2 linked regions of the Homo sapiens genome follow. The protein of the gene in region 2 interacts with the protein of the main gene of each other region in a pairwise test. Each region holds a gene or a part of one and is shown on either strand. Other genes may lie near its edges.

Region 1 (3,825 bases), on a different chromosome or scaffold from region 2:
AACTAAAGAGCTCCTGCACTGCAAAAGAAACTACCATCAGAGTGAACAGGCAACCTACAAAATGGGAGAAAATTTTCGCAACCTACTCATCTGACAAAGGGCTAATATCCAGAATCTACAATGAACTCAAACAAATTTACAAGAAAAAAAACAAACAACCCCATCAAAAAGTGGGCCAAGGACATGAACCGACACTTCTCAAAAGAAGACATTTATGCAGCCAAAAAACACATGAAAAAATACTCATCATCACTGGATCACTGGCCATCAGAGAAATGCAAATCAACACAACAATGAGATACCATCTCACACCAGTTAGAATGGCGATCATTAAAAAGTCAGGAAACAACAGGTGCTGGAGAGGATGTGGAGAAATAGGAACACTTTTACACTGTTGGTGGGACTGTAAACTAGTTAAACCATTGTGGAAGTCAGTGTGGCGATTCCTCAGGGATCTAGAACTAGAAATACCATTTGACCCAGCCATCCCATTACTGGGTATATACCCAAATGACTATAAATCATGCTGCTATAAAGACACATGCACACGTATGTTTATTGCGGCACTATTCACAATAGCAAAGACTTGGAACTAACCCAAATGTCCAAGAATGATAGACTGGATTAAGAAAATGTGGCACGTATACACCATGGAATACTATGCAGCCATAAAAATGATGAGTTCATGTCCTTTGTAGGGACGTGGATGAAATTGGAAATCATTTCTCAGTAAACTATCGCAAGAACAAAAAACCAAACACCGCATATTCTCACTCATAGGTGGGAACTGAACAATGAGAACACATGAACACAGGAAGGGGACCATCACACTCTGGGGACTGTTGTGGGGTGGGGGGAGGGGGGAGGGATAGCTTTAGGAGATACACCTAATGCTAAATGACAAGTTAATGGGTGCAGCACACCAGCATGGCACATGTATACATATGTAACTAACCTGCACATTGTGCACATGTACCCTAAAACTTAAAGTATAATAATAATAAAAAAATAAAAAAATAAAAAAATAAAAGAGTGATCACGTAGGCCCAGCGCGGTGCTCACGTCTGTAATCCCAACCCTTGGGAGGCCGAGGTGGGAGGATCACTTGAGGTCAGGAATTCAAGACCAGCCTGGCCAACATGGTGAAACTGTGTCTCTACTAAAAATACCAAAATTAGCTGGGAGTGGTGGCACTTGCCTACAATCCCAGCTACTCAGGAGACTGAGGCAGGAGAATTGCTTGAACCTGGGATGCAGGGGTTGCAGTAAGCCGAGATCACGCCACTGCATTCCAGCCTGGGTGACAGATTAAGACTCCATCTCAAAAAAAAAATTAAAAAAAAAAAAAAAAAAGAGTGATCATGTAAAGACTCTTTGAAAAAGTGTTATTTTATTTCTTTTTTTAGAGACAGGGTCTTTCCACTCTGTCACCCAAGCTGAAGTATAGTGGTACAATCACAGCTCACTGTAAGCTCAAATTCCTGGGCTCAAGTGATCCTCCTGCTCCAGACTTTTGAGTAGTTAGGACTATAGGTGCACATCAGCACACCTGGCTAGTATTTTCTTTTCTTTTTTTGTAGAGACAGAGTCTCACTATGTTGTCCAGGCTGGCTGGTCTTGAACTCTTGAACTCCTGGCCTCAAGTGATCCTCTCACCTATATATTTTTGTCTGCATTTCTATATTTTGAACATTTCCCATGCTAAAAATTAACTTATGTTCATAAATGAGGGAAACTTGAATCAAATGAATAGTTAAAAAAGAGAAGAGTAAAACACATTTACAGTGACTATCCCCAAATTTATCTGCTTTCAAGTTTGGATTTTAGAATATGTCATTATTTTAATGTGACATTTTTCCTAGAGTTTGTTTAACTTAATCATAGGATTAAACTTTAAAAATAACAGATCATTGTTGACTGACATAAACACCATCAATTATGTCACACAATTATAAGCTGGAAAGTCTACTTACACTTGGTATTATAGGAGGTGTCAAGGTACCTTTTCTTAAGCCTTCCCAGTTAAAGCCCTCAAACCATCTAGAAAAGGAAAAAACGTTGATAAAAACATTTTGTGTCAGCTAAAAGCTTCTCATTGCAGTGTATACAATGTCCATGGCTAATGGGAAGCAGTTAGGCAAACATTTTCATGTGACAAAAATGTTTTCTATTTAATTGCATATGTTTTCCTAATAGTTTATTTTATGAAATACATATTTTTAAAAGTATAACTGTCAAATTTTAAACACCAATTAACATGCAACACTTATTCCTTGTAATTCAGTCATAATGTCTCTATGACCTTGTTCCTACACTATAATTAAAATTTAATACATGTCATAATGTGTCTGGCCCTGTGCCTTACAGGATATTTTATTTTAAGGAGGTAGAACCAGGGCATGAAAAGTCAGGATAGAAAATTAACTTTCCATTTTTGCCACTGATTCAGTGCACAGTGTCAGCTAATTAACCTTTTCACATCATTGTCATAGTCTCTACATGTCCCATTTTCTTCTTTTTTTCCCTTTTTTAATGAAGAATAAAGATATTTTGTGTACAGTTTTTCTGTGAAAATAAGAACCAAAAAAGACTAAAGTTTTTGCTTGTTTGTTTTCTTTTGTCTTTGAAGGGTTTCAGCATTAGCAAATGCTTACAACAAATTCTTAGCAGGCTTTTCAGATATTCAGAGATATTTTAGTAAACATGTTTCTTTGATAAGGATGTGAATTTCCTGTCAGTGTTACACAAACAAATAGAGAAAACCCAATTAGTTTAGCTTTAGAACATCCAATCAACATAGGGAAGGTCTGATATTTAAGATGTTGCTATTGTTTAAAAAACACTGTATTCTGTACTTATGTTTTTCTCCTGTTATAACATCTAATTAGGAAATGCTTGGAAAAATATATTTTGTCTTTAGGAAATCAGGTAAGATACAGTAGGGGACTTTTATTTGTAATTCTGTGGTAGAGAATAGAATCCCCAAATTTAAAATACACATTTCCCCTTTGTGCCAGAGGGGAAAAAAATGCTAGTTGGTATGAGTTGTAAGAAACTGAGTTCAGCTTCTTATGTTACAGGGTTGTCAGATAAATATAAATAAGGTTTCATAATCACAACTAGAAAGGCATTTAAAAGCCTTACTAGTTTATACGCTGTCTTTGGATGTTCCTATAGGCTAATTATACTAGTTTTACACCAATAACTTAAAAAGCAACACCCTGGGGAAATGATGTCACGTGTTCAGAACTCTGCAGAAAGAACACTTACTTGTGCTTTTGAATGTCTTTTACTCCATTTTTCAAATTCCCTAATCTTTCTGATGGATTGTCCCTAAAAATAAAATAATGGTTTTATTAAATCTAATTTTTTCACATTATGATGTTTTCAAAAATAATGTGGTTGAAATACTTACCTGCATAGTTTTTTAATTAAATTAGCAGCATTTTTGGCAATCTTCTTTGGAAATTCTATCATGTCAATCCCCCTCAATATGATGTTATAGGTTTTCATAGGATCTGGGCCTGAGAAAGGTGGGCTGCAAGAATGAGAGACACGACAAGAGATATTACTTTTATTTTCTACATGAGAACACTTGAATTGCTATAAACTCCACAGATGACATCAATTCATATTTGGGGGCTTAGATTAATAGTGACAATGGAATGAAAATAGATTAATAGCAAAACAGTGTGGAAGCCCTTCCAAGTAAATCACTTAGTGAAACCAGAAATGGGTCAAGTTTATCTGCTCTTCTCTTGCTTTCTTTTAAGTGCTGGAGTCTAAGCCCTCATGCTGTCCTTGGTCATTCAAGATGCTTCTTCT
Region 2 (3,227 bases):
CCCTCCACCATCGACACCCCACACCCTTCCTGCCCACTCGCCTTGCTGGCCTCTAGACTTCTCAGCAGTGTGTAGGATAGATGGGCCTCCCGCCTCCTGCCCTGTAGGCTCTTGGCCCTCCACGGGAGCTCCTGCCCCACCCCTTGATTTCCCTTCCCCAGCGTGCCCACCAGGCCCAGTTCCTCCAGACACACCCTTCTGTGGACATCACTTTGTCCGCAATTGACCCTTGTCATTCTCCACCTCCTTTACCTCCTTCTAACTCACTGGGTTCAACAAAGATGAACAAAATGTCCATATGTCTGAAGCTTCATACTTGACCTTGGGGTCTCAGAAAAGAATTGAACTTTCTTCCTTCTGTTTTCCCCTGCTCCCCGGTATCCTGCTATGCCCTCAACCCTGAGCGTCTCTAGAGACCTCACTGCAGTCTGGAGGGGGAAGTGCCTAGGGGCGGGCGCTCACGGTAGGCTGTGCTGCTCCTCTCTTACCACCCCCACCGCCACCCTCTGCCCCCAGGGAGAACAGCAGCAACATCCTGGACAACCTGCTGTCCCGCATGGAGCAGTACGCGAACAATCTGGAGGAACTGGTGGAGGAGCGGACCCAGGCATACCTGGAGGAGAAGCGCAAGGCTGAGGCCCTGCTCTACCAGATCCTGCCTCAGTGAGTGCCTGAGTCTGGGGACCCCCCCCAACACAAAGCCCCTGTCCCGACCCCCAACTCTGATCCTGCACCTGCCCTGACCCCTTAGCTCAGTGGCTGAGCAGCTGAAGCGTGGGGAGACGGTGCAGGCCGAAGCCTTTGACAGTGTTACCATCTACTTCAGTGACATTGTGGGTTTCACAGCGCTGTCGGCGGAGAGCACACCCATGCAGGTAGGCCAGGGTTCAGCCACAGGTGCCAGGCAAGCTCAGCATCTGGATCCCACCAGACCTGCCTTCTGGTTCTGCTTTACCCACCTGACCCCAGGTGGGGTCCCCTACTTCCTGTCTCTCTTAGCTTCTCTTCCCTTCCAGGTGGTGACCCTGCTCAATGACCTGTACACTTGCTTTGATGCTGTCATAGACAACTTTGATGTGTACAAGGTGAGGGTGGGAGTGGGGATGGGAAGGGACAGACAGACATGGACAAGGTCAGAAAAAGATGAGGGGTAGGCAGAATGATGTGGAGTCTTAAGAGAGGAGATCGGGGACACGGGCAGAGACAGTGACACAGGGAGACCCGGGAACAGGCAGAGAACCCATGTGGGATGGGGGATGAGCAAAGACAGATGAGGGTACAGAATGACAGACGCTGCACCCGGTGTGACGGTGTGGCCGGCCGCACAGTTGCAGCCGTCAAGTCCTGCACCCCCTCGCCACTCCCACAGGTGGAGACAATTGGCGATGCCTACATGGTGGTGTCAGGGCTCCCTGTGCGGAACGGGCGGCTACACGCCTGCGAGGTAGCCCGCATGGCCCTGGCACTGCTGGATGCTGTGCGCTCCTTCCGAATCCGCCACCGGCCCCAGGAGCAGCTGCGCTTGCGCATTGGCATCCACACAGGTAAGGCCACTGAAGGTGCAGGCGGGCATCCAGAGGCCAAGGCTTCGCAAGGGAAACTTGTCCCCTGGCCCAGCCCCTCGCCCTTTCATCTCTCTCTCTCTCTCTCTCTCTCTCTCTCTCTCTCTCTGTCTCTCTCTCTCTCTCTCTCTCTCTCTCTCTCTCACACACACACACACACACACACACAGAGCTGGGACCTCAGATCCTGCCTCCTGCCTGTCTTGGATTGTCCACCTACCTCCCTTAACACCCCTCCCTCCCTCACTCGCTGATGGGCTCTGCTCCTTCCCTTGCTCCTCCCAGGACCTGTGTGTGCTGGAGTGGTGGGACTGAAGATGCCCCGTTACTGTCTCTTTGGGGATACAGTCAACACAGCCTCAAGAATGGAGTCTAATGGGGAAGGTACAGTGCCCCCTCCTAGAGGGAATGGGGAGGGCAGGGTGGCTGAGGGAAATGCCATCCTGGGGCAGCCTGTGCCTGCACAGCCCGTTTCAGCTCCTAGCCCTTTCGCCTCCCAAGTTCCCCTTCTCATAATATTAAGAGTTCAACCTGGGCTCATCAACTTGACTGTAACCAGAGACTCAGGTTCCTGCTGCCCCTCTTGTCAAACGATGTAAAAGTATTTCCGGGCCAGTGCTGGAGAGTTCCCAGCAGGAATCTGATTTTAAGACCCTCTGTGGGCCGGGCGTGGTGACTCACACCTGTAATCCCAGCACTTTGGGAAGCTGAGGCAGGCGGATCACCTGAGGTCGGGGGTTCGAGACCAGCCTGACCAACATGATGAAATCCCGTCTCTACTAAAAATACAAAAAACTAGCCAGGTGTGATGGCAGGCTCCTGTAATCCCAGCTACTTGGGAGGCTGAGGCAGAAGAATTGCTTGAACCCGGGAGGCAGAGGTTGCGATGAGCCAAGATTACACCACGCACCCCAGCTTGGGCAATAAGAGTTAAACTCTGTCTCAAAAAAAAAAAAAAAAAAAAAAAAAAAGACCCTCTGCTCCACCTTTGATGTGGTAAAGATGGCTTCAGAGCCAGCATAAGTGAGGCTGTGAATCTCAGCTCCACAGCTGGCTGTGTGTCAGTTTGCTATACCTCTCTGAGCCATGGTTTTCCTCATCTGTAAAAAGAGGGAAAAAATCTATCTCACAGGAATTATGTGAGAAACCCATTAAAAATGTCTACCACATAATTGTCATTTAACTTTTCCAAGCCTTAGCGGATTATCTGTAAAATGATGTCTATCTCAGGATTGCAAGAAGCCTAGCACAAACCCTGGTACCCAGCAGGCACCTAATAAATTCTTACTCCTACCCGCCCCTTGCTCTTGCCTCCTGTTTATCTTCTATCCTTCTGCTGTATTCGACACAATTCAATGCAGTAAACATTTATTGAGTGACTACTGAGTGCCAGGCCCTGGGATAGTAACATGGCCCAGATCCAGAGTTAGCTGAGAAATTCATGTGGACCCCATCTAAACCTTATGGTGAAAGAAAGGCTGCTTGGGAGCCAGTCCTGGGAGCCCAGAGGGATCTAGTTCGGCAAATATTCCCTGGGCACTATTTTGGGGGCTGTCAGAGTACAGCCCCTTGTTGAGGGTCCAGTCCTCAAGGAGCACATTCCCAGAAATTGTTCAACATTCTGGGCGCTGGGGGTGCTTGTAATCCCAGCACTTTGGGAGGCCG

Evidence for each region.
Region 1: the proteins of NPR1 (region 2) and PRKG1 interact in a two-hybrid assay, tested with the Homo sapiens proteins (one study listed by BioGRID).

What each region holds. Positions count from the first base shown.
Region 1 is NC_000010.11:52,288,439-52,292,263, reverse strand, and holds part of PRKG1 (cGMP-dependent protein kinase 1), read right to left. Parts: intron 3,539-3,825; coding exon 3,416-3,538; intron 3,334-3,415; coding exon 3,271-3,333; intron 2,041-3,270; coding exon 1,974-2,040; intron 1-1,973. UniProt on the Homo sapiens protein: Serine/threonine protein kinase that acts as a key mediator of the nitric oxide (NO)/cGMP signaling pathway. GMP binding activates PRKG1, which phosphorylates serines and threonines on many cellular proteins.
Region 2 is NC_000001.11:153,688,437-153,691,663, forward strand, and holds part of NPR1 (atrial natriuretic peptide receptor 1 precursor), read left to right. Parts: intron 1-516; coding exon 517-663; intron 664-751; coding exon 752-875; intron 876-1,016; coding exon 1,017-1,085; intron 1,086-1,268; exon of another isoform or gene 1,269-1,357; intron 1,358-1,369; coding exon 1,370-1,544; intron 1,545-1,847; coding exon 1,848-1,946; intron 1,947-3,227. UniProt on the Homo sapiens protein: Receptor for the atrial natriuretic peptide NPPA/ANP and the brain natriuretic peptide NPPB/BNP which are potent vasoactive hormones playing a key role in cardiovascular homeostasis.